Regions from separate parts of the Homo sapiens genome. Here region 1 is linked to region 2. The links come from fine-mapping of genetic effects on gene expression. A gene starts in region 2. The other region holds a variant in brackets. All regions are shown on one strand. Distances are from middle to middle.

Evidence for each region. PIP is the estimated chance that this variant, and not a neighbour inherited with it, causes the effect.
Region 1: its variant is the best candidate, but not a certain one, in a credible set for the expression of B3GNT7 in atrial appendage (GTEx, PIP 0.87).

What each region holds. Positions count from the first base shown.
Region 1 is chr2:231,420,113-231,425,477 of GRCh38, reverse strand. No RefSeq gene overlaps it. Among named protein-coding and RNA genes, the nearest start is that of B3GNT7, 27 kb to the right of the region's middle. RefSeq lists an enhancer at 4,575-5,075. The variant G/C (reference allele first, on the strand shown) is at 2,128.
Region 2 is chr2:231,392,903-231,398,267 of GRCh38, reverse strand. B3GNT7 (UDP-GlcNAc:betaGal beta-1,3-N-acetylglucosaminyltransferase 7) reads right to left here and starts at 2,558. Exons shown (of 2, transcript NM_145236.3): 1 at 2,454-2,558; 2 at 1-537. The coding sequence starts at 2,464. RefSeq lists enhancers at 947-1,016, 1-1,158, 3,427-3,476, 3,772-4,353, 4,354-4,936 and a silencer at 2,407-2,876.

The DNA.
Region 1 (5,365 bases), 27 kb before region 2:
CTGTCCAGCTGAAGTCCTGCTTGATGTTGGCAGAGGATGTGGTCGTTCAGAGCTGGGAGGACAGACCAGACACCAAGCAAGACCAAGAACTCTCCACTATTTCTGACTCTGGATGAGCGGGGTGCAGGGTCTTGAGGAGTAACTGGGGAACGGGACTGCAGAGACTACAATTCCCTCAGGGAATGTGGCTGTGGGATGAGAGTAGGGACACAGCTGAAGAGGTTCATGGGGTTGAAGGAGTTTCTTGTTTTTGTTTGTTTTCAACACGTAAAAGTCTTGAGCCCATTTAAAAGGCCATGGAGCTAGGCGCGGTGGCTCAGGCCTGCAATCCCAGCACTTTGGGGGGCTGAGGTGGGCGGGTCACATAAGGTCAGGAGTTCGAGGCCAGCATGGTGAAACCCTGTCTCTACTAAAAATACAAAAATTAGCTGGGCGTGTTGGCAGGTGCCTGTAATCTCAGCTACTTGGGAGGCTGAGGTGTGAGAATCGCTTGAACCTGGGAGGCAAAGGTTGCAGTGAGCCGAGATGGCACCACTGCACTCCAGCCTGGGCAACAGAATGAGACCCCGTCTCAAAAAAAAAAAAAAAAAAGAAAAGAAAAGAAAAGAAAAGGCTATGGAGAAGGATTAGTGGAGCAATGGATGTTGACCACAGAAGAGAGACAGTGGTCCTAAGCGCTTGGGAAGGGTGGGCTCTGAGACTCAGGTGGAGGCAAGCAGGGGATGGGTCTTTTGTTTTTAAACTGGAGGTGCTCTTCCCACGAGTCCTTCCACGTGCTCTTTGAATTAAAAGGCAAGGTCATCTGATGAAAAGAGGGGAGATGTCAGAGTCAGAGGTTTGAGAAGTGCAGAGGTCTCAAATGTGCCCAGGAAACATGGAATTAGACCCAAGTCCACACGATAATTCAGTACGTAATAAATCTGCCACTTCCACTGGTGTTGGCGTAACTGGAATACCATCTGCCTAGAGGAAAAATTATATTAATATCTTTTTTTTTTGAGACAGGGTCTCACTCTGTCACCCAGGCTGGAGTGCAGTGGTGTGATCATGGCTCACTGCTCCCAGGTTCAGGTGATACTCCTGTCAGTCTCCTGAGTAGCTAGGACCACAGGCACACACCACCACTCCTGGCTAATATTTTTAGACTATTATTTGTAGAAATGGGGTGTCACTATGTTGCTCAGGCTGATCTTGTGCTCCTGGAATCAAGTGATCATCCTGCCTTGGCCTCCAAAAGTGCTGAGATTACAGGCATGAGCCACCACGCCCAGCAATACCTCATGTCTTATATTAAAATACATTTCAGGTGGATCAAATATGTTAATGTAAAAAGTGAAATATGACAGTACTAGAAGAAAATATGGAAAATTTATTTTATAACTTAAAGTTGGAAAGAGCTTTTTAAATTTAATTTTTATTTATTTATTTTTTCCAAGACAGAGTCTTGCTCTGTTGCCCAGAGCTGGAGTGCAATGGCGCGATCTCGGCTCACTGCAACCTCCGCCCCCCAGGATCAAGCAATTCTCCTGCCTCAGCCTCCCTAGTAGCTGGGATTACAGGCATGCGCCACCAGGCCCGGCTGATTTTTGTATTTTTAGTAGAGACGGGGTTTCATCATGCTGGCCAGGCTGGTCTCAAACTCCTGACCTCGTGACCCACCCGCCTCGGCCTCCCAAATTGCTGGGATTACGGGTGTGAGCCACCACGTCCAGTCTTGTTTTTAATTTTTAAATTTTCAGTGCTTTTTGGGTAGGAGAGGACTTTCTAAGAATAACGACATAGTACCTAGAAGCCATTAAGGAAAAGATGGAAAATTTACATTAAAATATCACTGTATCACAGAAAAATTATGAACAAAGTCAAAAGATAGATGACAAATGGAAAAATATTTTCAGTGCATATCAGATAAATGTCTTTAATGAACCCCTTCAACAAATAAGTAAAAGTCAATCCCATTTTAGTAGGTGTCGCAATGGAAAAAAAGACAAAGACAAAGACAAATAAGCCAATAGAAAAATAGGCAAAGGATATGAACCAACCGCGAAGCAGGCTCACCGTGCGCGGCTTACCAACTTGTCGGCATCTGGTGAGACGGAACACACTCACATGTACCCAGTTACACGATGA[G/C]GATTTATTACAGATTGGCAGCAAGGGGCAACAGAGGCCTAGGATTCATTCAGAGCCAGTTCCCCAGGCTCAGGCCAGCTGCCCAGGGCTGATGGAATCTTGACTTCATGCGTCCCACCTGCACCATGGCTGAAGAACCCTGAAAAGCAGCCTGCCCTGAGCTTTATGCTCTGTGAGTGGCTGAGCTACAGTGTTGAAGGACACCCTGTTTCTTTTCTTTTTTTTTTTTTTGAGACAGAGTCTCGCTCTTGTTGCCCAGGCTGGAGTACAGTGGTGCGATCTTGGCTCACCGCAACCTCCACCTCCCGGGTTTAAGCAATTCTTCTGCCTCAGCCTCCCGAGTAGCTGGGATTACAGGTGCCTGCCACCATGCCTGGCTAATTTTTTGTATTTTTGGTAGAGACGGGGTTTCACCATGTTGGCCAGGCTAGTCTTGAACTCCTGACCTCAGGTGATCTGCCTGCCTTGGCCTCCCAAAGTGCTGGGATTACAGGCATGAGCCACCCTGTTTCTAAGGCGGAACTGGAACAGAGCCTGAGCAGTTCTGGCCAGCTCCCCCTTATCTCAAGATGTTGCATTTCTAGCACATTCTACAGTTAATTTTCAGAACTACAAGCAAGAAAGATGGGAGAACCGGGCTGGTTTAAGGTCACCTAGAAAATTGTCCTGTACAAATCTTTCTCAGGAAAGGAAATATGAATGATTCAAACACATGAAAAGATGTTAATGTCACTCAGAGTAGGAGAAATGCAAATTAAAACAACACTATGTGCATTTTCTTACCTGTTAGATTGGTGATGATCACCAGGTTTGCTGACACATTTCATGTACCTGCTGTTTGGGACAATTGCCAGGGAGGGTGAGTTGGGAATAGCTAGTTATCTGTTATGGACTGAGTTGCATCCCCTCAAAATTCACACGCTGAAGTCCTAACCTCCAGTACCTCAGAATGTGACTGTATTTGGAGACAGGGTCTTTAAAGAGGGAATTAAGTTAAAATGAGATTGTTAGGGTGGGGCCCTAATCCAATATGACAGATGTCTTTATAAGAAGAGGAAATTTGGACACATACACCCATAGAGTGAAACTAACTCTGCCAACATCTTAATCTCAGACTTCAGCCTCAGACTGTGAGGAAATAAATTTTCCGTTGTTTAAGCCACCCAGTCTGTGGTTCTCTGTTATGGCAGCCCTAGCAAACTAATACACCAGCAACCTTGAAACTGACCTGAAAATTTGACTTCTAGTAACTTATACTACAGATAGACTGGCATGTGTTCCTGGCATGTGCAGGATATGCGAGGGTATTGTTTGTAGCAGTCAGGGTTCAATCAAGAAAACAGAAGCCACTCTAGGTATTTTGAGCAGAAAGAGAAGCATTGGAAGGGCTGGGAGAGGAAAGGCCAGGAAAGTTCTAGAAGTTAGGAGATGGCAGGGAAGTCATCACCAGTGATCCTCGGTGCTGGCAGGGCCAAAGCACATGATGCCCAGGGGGACACCTGGAGCTGCCGGAAGCTGTCACCAAGGATCTCAGGCTGGTCTCGAACTCCTGACCTCAAGTGATCCGCCAGCCTTGGCCTCCCAAAGTGCTGGGATTACAGGTGTGAGCCACTGTGTCTGGCTGGATCTCAGCTGCTTATAGCACTGCAGTGGGGGTCATGCAGGGTGATGCCCAGAAGCCGAGGAAAGGAGTCTGCCATGAGTTTTGCTGCCTAACCATAGTAGCTGCTGGAGACCAATGGCTTCTGCTTCCTTCATGGGCAGAATTCAGCCTAGGACATACTGGAAAGGGGCTCTGGAAATGCAGGGAGATGTAGAAGGGGATGGGAGTGATGTTACATTAACAAGGACTGATCTAGCACCGTCCATCCACAGAGGCTGGTTAAATACACCATGGTTTGTTCAGACGGAACACCAAGCAGCTTCAAATGGAATGCAGAAACTCCGCATTTTCTGCCCGGTGACCCTCAGCAGTGTGGGTGGCCAAATGGGTGGCCCACAGACTCTGAGAAGGCCCGGAAAGGTTGTGAGGACAGAGCCCTGACCGAGGGACAAAGCAGTCCCTGTCAACCTGGATAACAGCCTCAGCCCTCCTAGTCCCCAGAGTGAGAGGAGCGGGGCCAAGAAACAAGCACTTTTAGCAACACCAAGGGCTTCAAAAGTTCTGTCTGGAGCAAGAACAGGAGCCAGCCTGGGACTGGGGTCTCCGTAGGCCACTGCTTTTCCTCCAGCGCCAGTGAGGTGAGGCTGGCACTCAGGCTGGTCAAGGAATGCAGAGGAAGACAAGTCCCCCATTCATCCCCTGAAAAGGGGGCTGCACCTGGCGCAGGAGTGTGTCCAGGCTGCTGGGGTGCTGGGGCCCTGCCCTCTCCTTCACCCCCAGATTTCAGTCCAGATGACCCTTTATGAGCTCATGCTCTTTGTCTGCTACTTTTTTTTTTTTTTTTTTTTTTTGAGACAAGGTCTTGCTCTATTGCTCAGGCTGGAGTGTAGTGGCACGATCATAGCTCACTGTAACCTTGAACTCCTGGGCTCAAGCGATCCTTCTGCCTCAACCTGCTGAGTAGCTAGGGCTACAAGGGTGCACCACCGCGTTGGCTGATTTTTGAATTTTTTGTAGAGATGGAGTCTCACGATGTTGCCCAGGCTTGTCTGGAACTCCTGGGCTCAAGGGAGCTTCCCAAAGTGCTGGGATTACAGGGTGAGCCACTGCACCCAACTGCCTGCTACTTCTTGTTTTATGGAGGTCCTTTTGGTTTCTCTTTTTTCCTTTTTGAGACAGGGTCTTGCTCTGTCATCCAGGCTGGAGTGTAGTGGTGCAAACATGGCTCACTACAGCCTCGACTTCCTGGGCTCAAGCGATCCTCCTGCCTCAGCTTCCCTGATAGCTGGAACCACAGGTGTGCACCACCACGCAGGGCTCATCTTTTAAATTTTTTGTAGAGATGGGTCTCCCAGGCTGGTCTTGAACTCCCAGGTTCAAACAATCCTCCCACCTGGGCCTCCCAAAGTGTTGGGATTACAGGTGTGAGCCATTGTGCCCAGCTACTTCTTGTTTTTTAATTTTAAAACACATAGGTCGAAATTGTTTTGTTTGTGTGTGACTTTAGACACACATTGTTCAATCTAGCACACCTACCATTCTGAGTTACCTGGCTCCTCCTAGCTTTTCTGTTTAAGTTGGCTTATCTTTTCCTGGCTATCTCATTCCTTTACCTTTATTATTTCACTTCTGTAT
Region 2 (5,365 bases):
TGCTTGGAGGCCGTGCCCAGCAGGAAGAGGGTGCGCACGGCGCCTCGGCCCCCACCCGCGGACTGCCGCTCGCGGCCCCAGGTCTGGCGGATGGCCTCGCGGCGGTCGTGCTGCGTGATGACCGACTTGACAACCACCAGCAGGTAGACATCGCCCCTGCACTTCTCCGGGTGGTTCAGCAGCATGGGGAAGTAGCGGCAGTGGCGGTAGAAGAGAAACTGCCGGAACTGCGGCTCCAGGACCTGGAACCAGGGCTGGTGGGTCAAGTTGATATTGGCTGAGCAGTTAGTGGTGGTCACGTCCCAGGCCTGGGGCCCCTGAGAGGCCATGGGCGTGGGCGCAGCCACATCTTTCGGGTTCTTCCAGAAGTTGTTGGGGTTCACCAGCTGTCCATTTGGCTTCTGGGCCTTCTGTGGCTCCAGGGTGGGTGGCGGAGGCTCCTGCAGAAACTGACCAGGGGTGAGACTGCGTTGGAACACCGTCACGGCCACGAGCAGGGCCAGGGCCAGGCACAGACTCCGGTAGACGGTTTTCTTCCTGTGGGGGAGAGCGGACAGTACAGAGGAGAGAGAAAAGATGAGCCCAGGGCTCTCCTGGCGCCCCCCTTGGGAGGCTGGGTGGTCCCAGACGGGCAAGTGGACCTGGGCACAGGCTCAGTCCCGGAGTCCCTAAGCTGTCAGGGTAGGGTCCCGCTTCCTCTCCCACCCTGCCCTTTCTTTCTCCCACCCTGCCCTCTCCTCAAGGAGCACTGTGGAATCAGGCCCTGACGCTTACAAGCTGAATGAGTGGTTTACAACCACTCTGAGCCACGATTTCTTCTTCCCCCAAATGGGGCTAAAACACAGGATTGGAGTGCTATATAAAGTACCAGGCAGCGGGTGCACAGTTAGGGGAATGCTGTCACCTTAACAGGAGGGCCTCAGGTGGAAACCTCTGCCCTGTTCCCCACGCCTGGAACCCCAATGCCTTTCATTTCCCTGCGGTGTACCTACCCACAGCAGTAGGTATCGGTATCATTAGGTGACTCAGAGCCAGAGTCATTGAGAGGGCACCCTCTGATCCTCTGTGCCGCCCGGGAGCTCCATCACATGTGGGGCACATTGGAGAGTGGCTCGAGCTTGGGACCTGAGGAAGACTGGCCCTCCTCCCCCTTCTCCAGTCTGTCTCACCCAACAAAGAGCAGCCCTCATGGTTGATGGAGGCCCAAGGATGCAGTGAGCACCTCTAGCATGGCACTGCCCCTCACCCCTACCTTAACATCCCCAGCTCATAACACCCCATTAGAAGACATGAGGCTACAGCTCTACTCCCTGGGAGGGGGCACATTTGCAGCTCCAGCCCTTGAGGGACCCTTCTTGCCCAGAGACCCCCCCACCCCAACCCCGGTCCACACCCATTTCGGAAGCAGAAATTAGAGCTCTCTGCCAGGAGTGCTGGTCGTCCCAAGCCCTGGGGCCTGAGCCCCTGTCCTGAAGGACCTCCTCTCTTCATCTCACCCTCCGGGGGCTGCCAGGACACCTGCCCCACCCTCCCCAGTGGAGACCTGGGGGCTGAGAGCTCTGGGGACAGCAGAGTGGCCTTCCAGGGCCAGCCTAGCAGAGAGATGGCGCTGACCTCCAAGGGGGAGGAGCAGGGTGCCAGGAGAGACAGGCAGCCCGTGGAGACGCCTGGGTTGCCCTGAGGGCTGGTCCGGTTGCAGGTCCAGGCCCCAGGGTGAATGCAGGCTGAGCCCCATAGAGCGACATTTTCCCCATAGGGTCCCCAGGTTGCTGGGGCATGTGGTTGGAGGAAGACAGGGGCACCTTAGGTGCAGGCTGGGGGGTGTGACCCAAGGTCCAGCTCTCCGGGGAGGAAACGGAGGGCTCCGGATCCGGCCCTGCCAGCCCTAGGGGTTCCAGGGAAGCCGCCCACCGAGGCCGGGACGGGGGAGGTCGGGGGGTGCACCGGGAAGGCGGCGAGGCCCTGGGCTGCGGGCGCTCCACCTGCCGGGTCCGCTCCATTCGTAGGGAAAGCCCGGGAGGGGCGGAGAGGGGCCGGGCGGGCGGCGGTCCGAGGTCCCGCGGAAGGAAGCCCCGAGAGGAGGAGAGTGGCCCGGACGCAGGGGGCCCTCAGGGGTCTGGAAGGGAGAGGGGACCCAGCTGCCGGCAAGACCTGGGGTCCCAGCCGCCAGGGTCCTGGAGCGGTGTCCAGGGCCGCGGGGCCGGGGAGCTGAGCGCGGCGCCCCGAGACCCCTCGACGTCCCCCACGGGTCCGGGGCCGCGTACCGCGAACATCTCCCGCCGCCGCCGCCGCGCCCGCCCGCCCATCCGCCCCCGGGAAACTGAGGCCGGCGCGGCGCGCGCGGGGGCATCTCCTATCCCGGGAGTCCCGGCGCCCGTCTGTGGCCACGGAGGAGGGGGAGCCCCGGGCCCACGCCCCCGCCCAGGCCCCCGACGGCCCCCAGCCCCACTCACCACAGCGACATGGCGGCCCGGGCCGGAGCGGCGGAGGGGCGAGCGGCTCGCAGCTCTGGGCGCCACGGCTCGGGCCGGCGGGACGGCGGGCGGGTGGGGACGGAGACCGGGCCGCGCCCCCGCCGCGACTTTCCTCTTCCCGGCCGCGGGAGGAGGGGCCGGCAGGGGCGGTGGCCCAGGTGCCTTAACCCCTTCGGCGCCCAGGGCCCGCCCCGCCGCCGCCTGGCGGGGACCACCCCATTTCTCCGAGACGGCCCCTAGGCTCCCCAAGCGCGCCTAGTAGACAGTGCATGGCCGAGGCGGGGCTTCGGAACCCACGGGGGTCACCTCCAATCCCGGGGACGCCTGTCCCTGGCGGAGCCTCCCGGGGCGGGGGGAGGGCGGTCGCCGGTCCCTCCTGTACTTGTGCGAAACCTGAACACCCGGTCCCCTCCAAGACCCTGGGGCACCCCAAGGCCCAGCCATTTCCCTCTGGCCCCATTCGGACTTGTCTTTGGGGCCAGAGGCAGACAGGGTGTCCTTTTCTCCCTCTGCTACCTTCTGCCCCTGCACCTTTCCCCTGACCAGACGGACCCCTTGCCCAGCTGTTGGGCTACCTAGGGCCAGGAGCAAAGCCAGCCACTAGGGAAAGAGGCCGTATGAGACTGGGCTCCATGTCAGGACTCGCCCAGGCCTGTGGCTCTGGAAGCTTTTTTTGTGCCCCCACCATGTCCCTCTCTTCACCTCTGGGGTTCCTCCCACCTCTGAGGGCTCCCCACCACCAAGGGAAGGCCTGTTGGCCCAGCCCTATCTCCTTTCTTTTTTCACTTATCACTCAAAACCCTTTTTGTCCTCAAGCCTTTATTAGTCTGCTTGTGCACATCAGGCCTAGCGGCTCTGGGGAGTGGGCTGACAGAGAACACGGAGAGGGCTTGGTCCAGCCAGGTGACTTCCAGAATCCTCCAGCAGGGAGAGCCATCGCTGGTCCTGTTGTTGCTCAGGTTGTTCTGGTCTTGTTCCGGGTTGAGGTTTCGGTGCTTAGCATCCAGCAGGACCTCCAAAAGGCCCACAGAATTGAAACGGAAGCACGTTGTGGTCCAATCATAACAGCTAACGTCCACTGAGCAGCTACAATATGCCAAACCTGGTTCTCGGCCCATGCATGACTGGCTCACTTAATCCTAGAGACATACGCTATTATTCCCACCTTACAGGGGAGGAAACGGGGGTGCAGAGGGGAACTCCCAGCCAGCTCAGAGAACAGCGAGCCCAGAGTTAGTAAGCACATCCAGGAGGCCTGCATGGCCTGAAGGCTGGCTCTGAACCCTTCCTGCCTGGTCTGAAGGCTGGCTCTGAGCCCTTCCTCAACCTTTTTTCCTTTCCCAGGGACAGCAGTGACATGGAGCTACTTTCCTGCCCAGCACACAGGGAGGCTAGGAGTCCTCAGCTGGATCTTAAGCCCTCGAGGCCAGGGTGAGGAGCCCCTTCTGCCCTATCCTTAAGGTTCAAGGGCCCTTTGGAGGGGGAGGAGAAACTTAAGGTACCATAGAATGTTCTGGAATGTTGTAAGTGCCAATTAGGGAATGTGAAGGGCCTTTCAGGCAGAATTTCAGAGGAGTATCTTGGGGCTGATGTCCTTTGTAATGGCCCTCCAAAAGTTCCAGAGCAGGGGAGGGGCTGACCTGCAGCCCAAAGCCCCTGTTGGCCTGGCTGCCTGCCACTGAGGGCCACCCGCAGATTCTGCAGCTCCACGGCTCCCTTCATCCCAGTGTAGCCTTGGCCACCGGTTCCCGCAGGGCACCAAGCATTTTGCTCCACTGCCCAGCCTTCCGAGTTCCCCACTTCACCCTGCAAGTGTGGCCCTGGCTTCCCTGGCTCCACACAGGTGCCCTGCTGAGAGCTGCCTCCCTGGCTTCAGCACTGACCTCTCACCCGGTGCTGTGGGGTCTCCTCCTCCTGCTGAGGGGTGGACACAGCCGTCCCTGGGAAGGGGGTTTTGAGCCCATGTTTGGGGATGGCAGGCATGGGCGTTGGGTCAGAGTCTTGCACTTCCTGGTTGTCACTGGGGGCAGGTGGCTTTTCCCCTTGAGACCTCAATTTCCTGCCAGCTCAGGGCCTTGTGAGATGACGCCAATGAAGCACAGACATAGGCATCCCCTATGTAAAGAACTTGGTGGCAGGCCGGCTACTGTTAGTGTTATCATTGATGTCCAGCTACTCCACAAAGCCCCAGAAGCACAAGGGCCAGAGGAGGTGGGAGCAGAGGGAGCTGCCCAAGGTCAGCGGAGTGTTTGCCAGTGGAATCTGGTCAGTTGAGACAGGCAGTTTGTCATCATGGAATCATTTGATCTGTGCCTAGTTTGAATTCAGAGAGGGGAAATGAATGACAATTAAATGCGAGTCCCTGATGGTGGGGTGGGGGTGGGGAGTGTGGAGCCGGGCCAGGCTCGGGTCAGCCTCCCCTGTTACTCCAATGTGCTCCCCTGTGGGGCAGCTGGGCCAGTCCCTATGGCAAGCACAGTGGTCCCCCCACCGCCAATCTGGCCAGTTCCACCTGCCCCAGCCAGAGGGCAGAGCCCCAGCAGATTCCTGTGGATTTAAGCGAGGCCCTGAGGAAGGCAGGCCTGTCTGCGATGGGATCTGCCTACCTGCTGTCCCCAACCCTGGCTGAAGGCAGAGCCCAGAGGTAGAGGGAAGTTCCAGAGTGGCAGATACCAGGAGAAGAGGGTGGGTGACGGATGAGCTGGCTGCATAGGCTGCAGGAGTCCCAAGCCAAGGTGGAGGTGGGTTCTGTGTCCTTGTCACAAGGCCACTCTGTGCACCTCAGGTTGCTCCCTTGGAGGGGGAAGCTCGTGAGCCAGGACGTTGGAGGACCCCAAGAAATGCCCCCTTCCCCAGTACATCTTTTGGCCCCTCAGCCCATCCCTACCTCC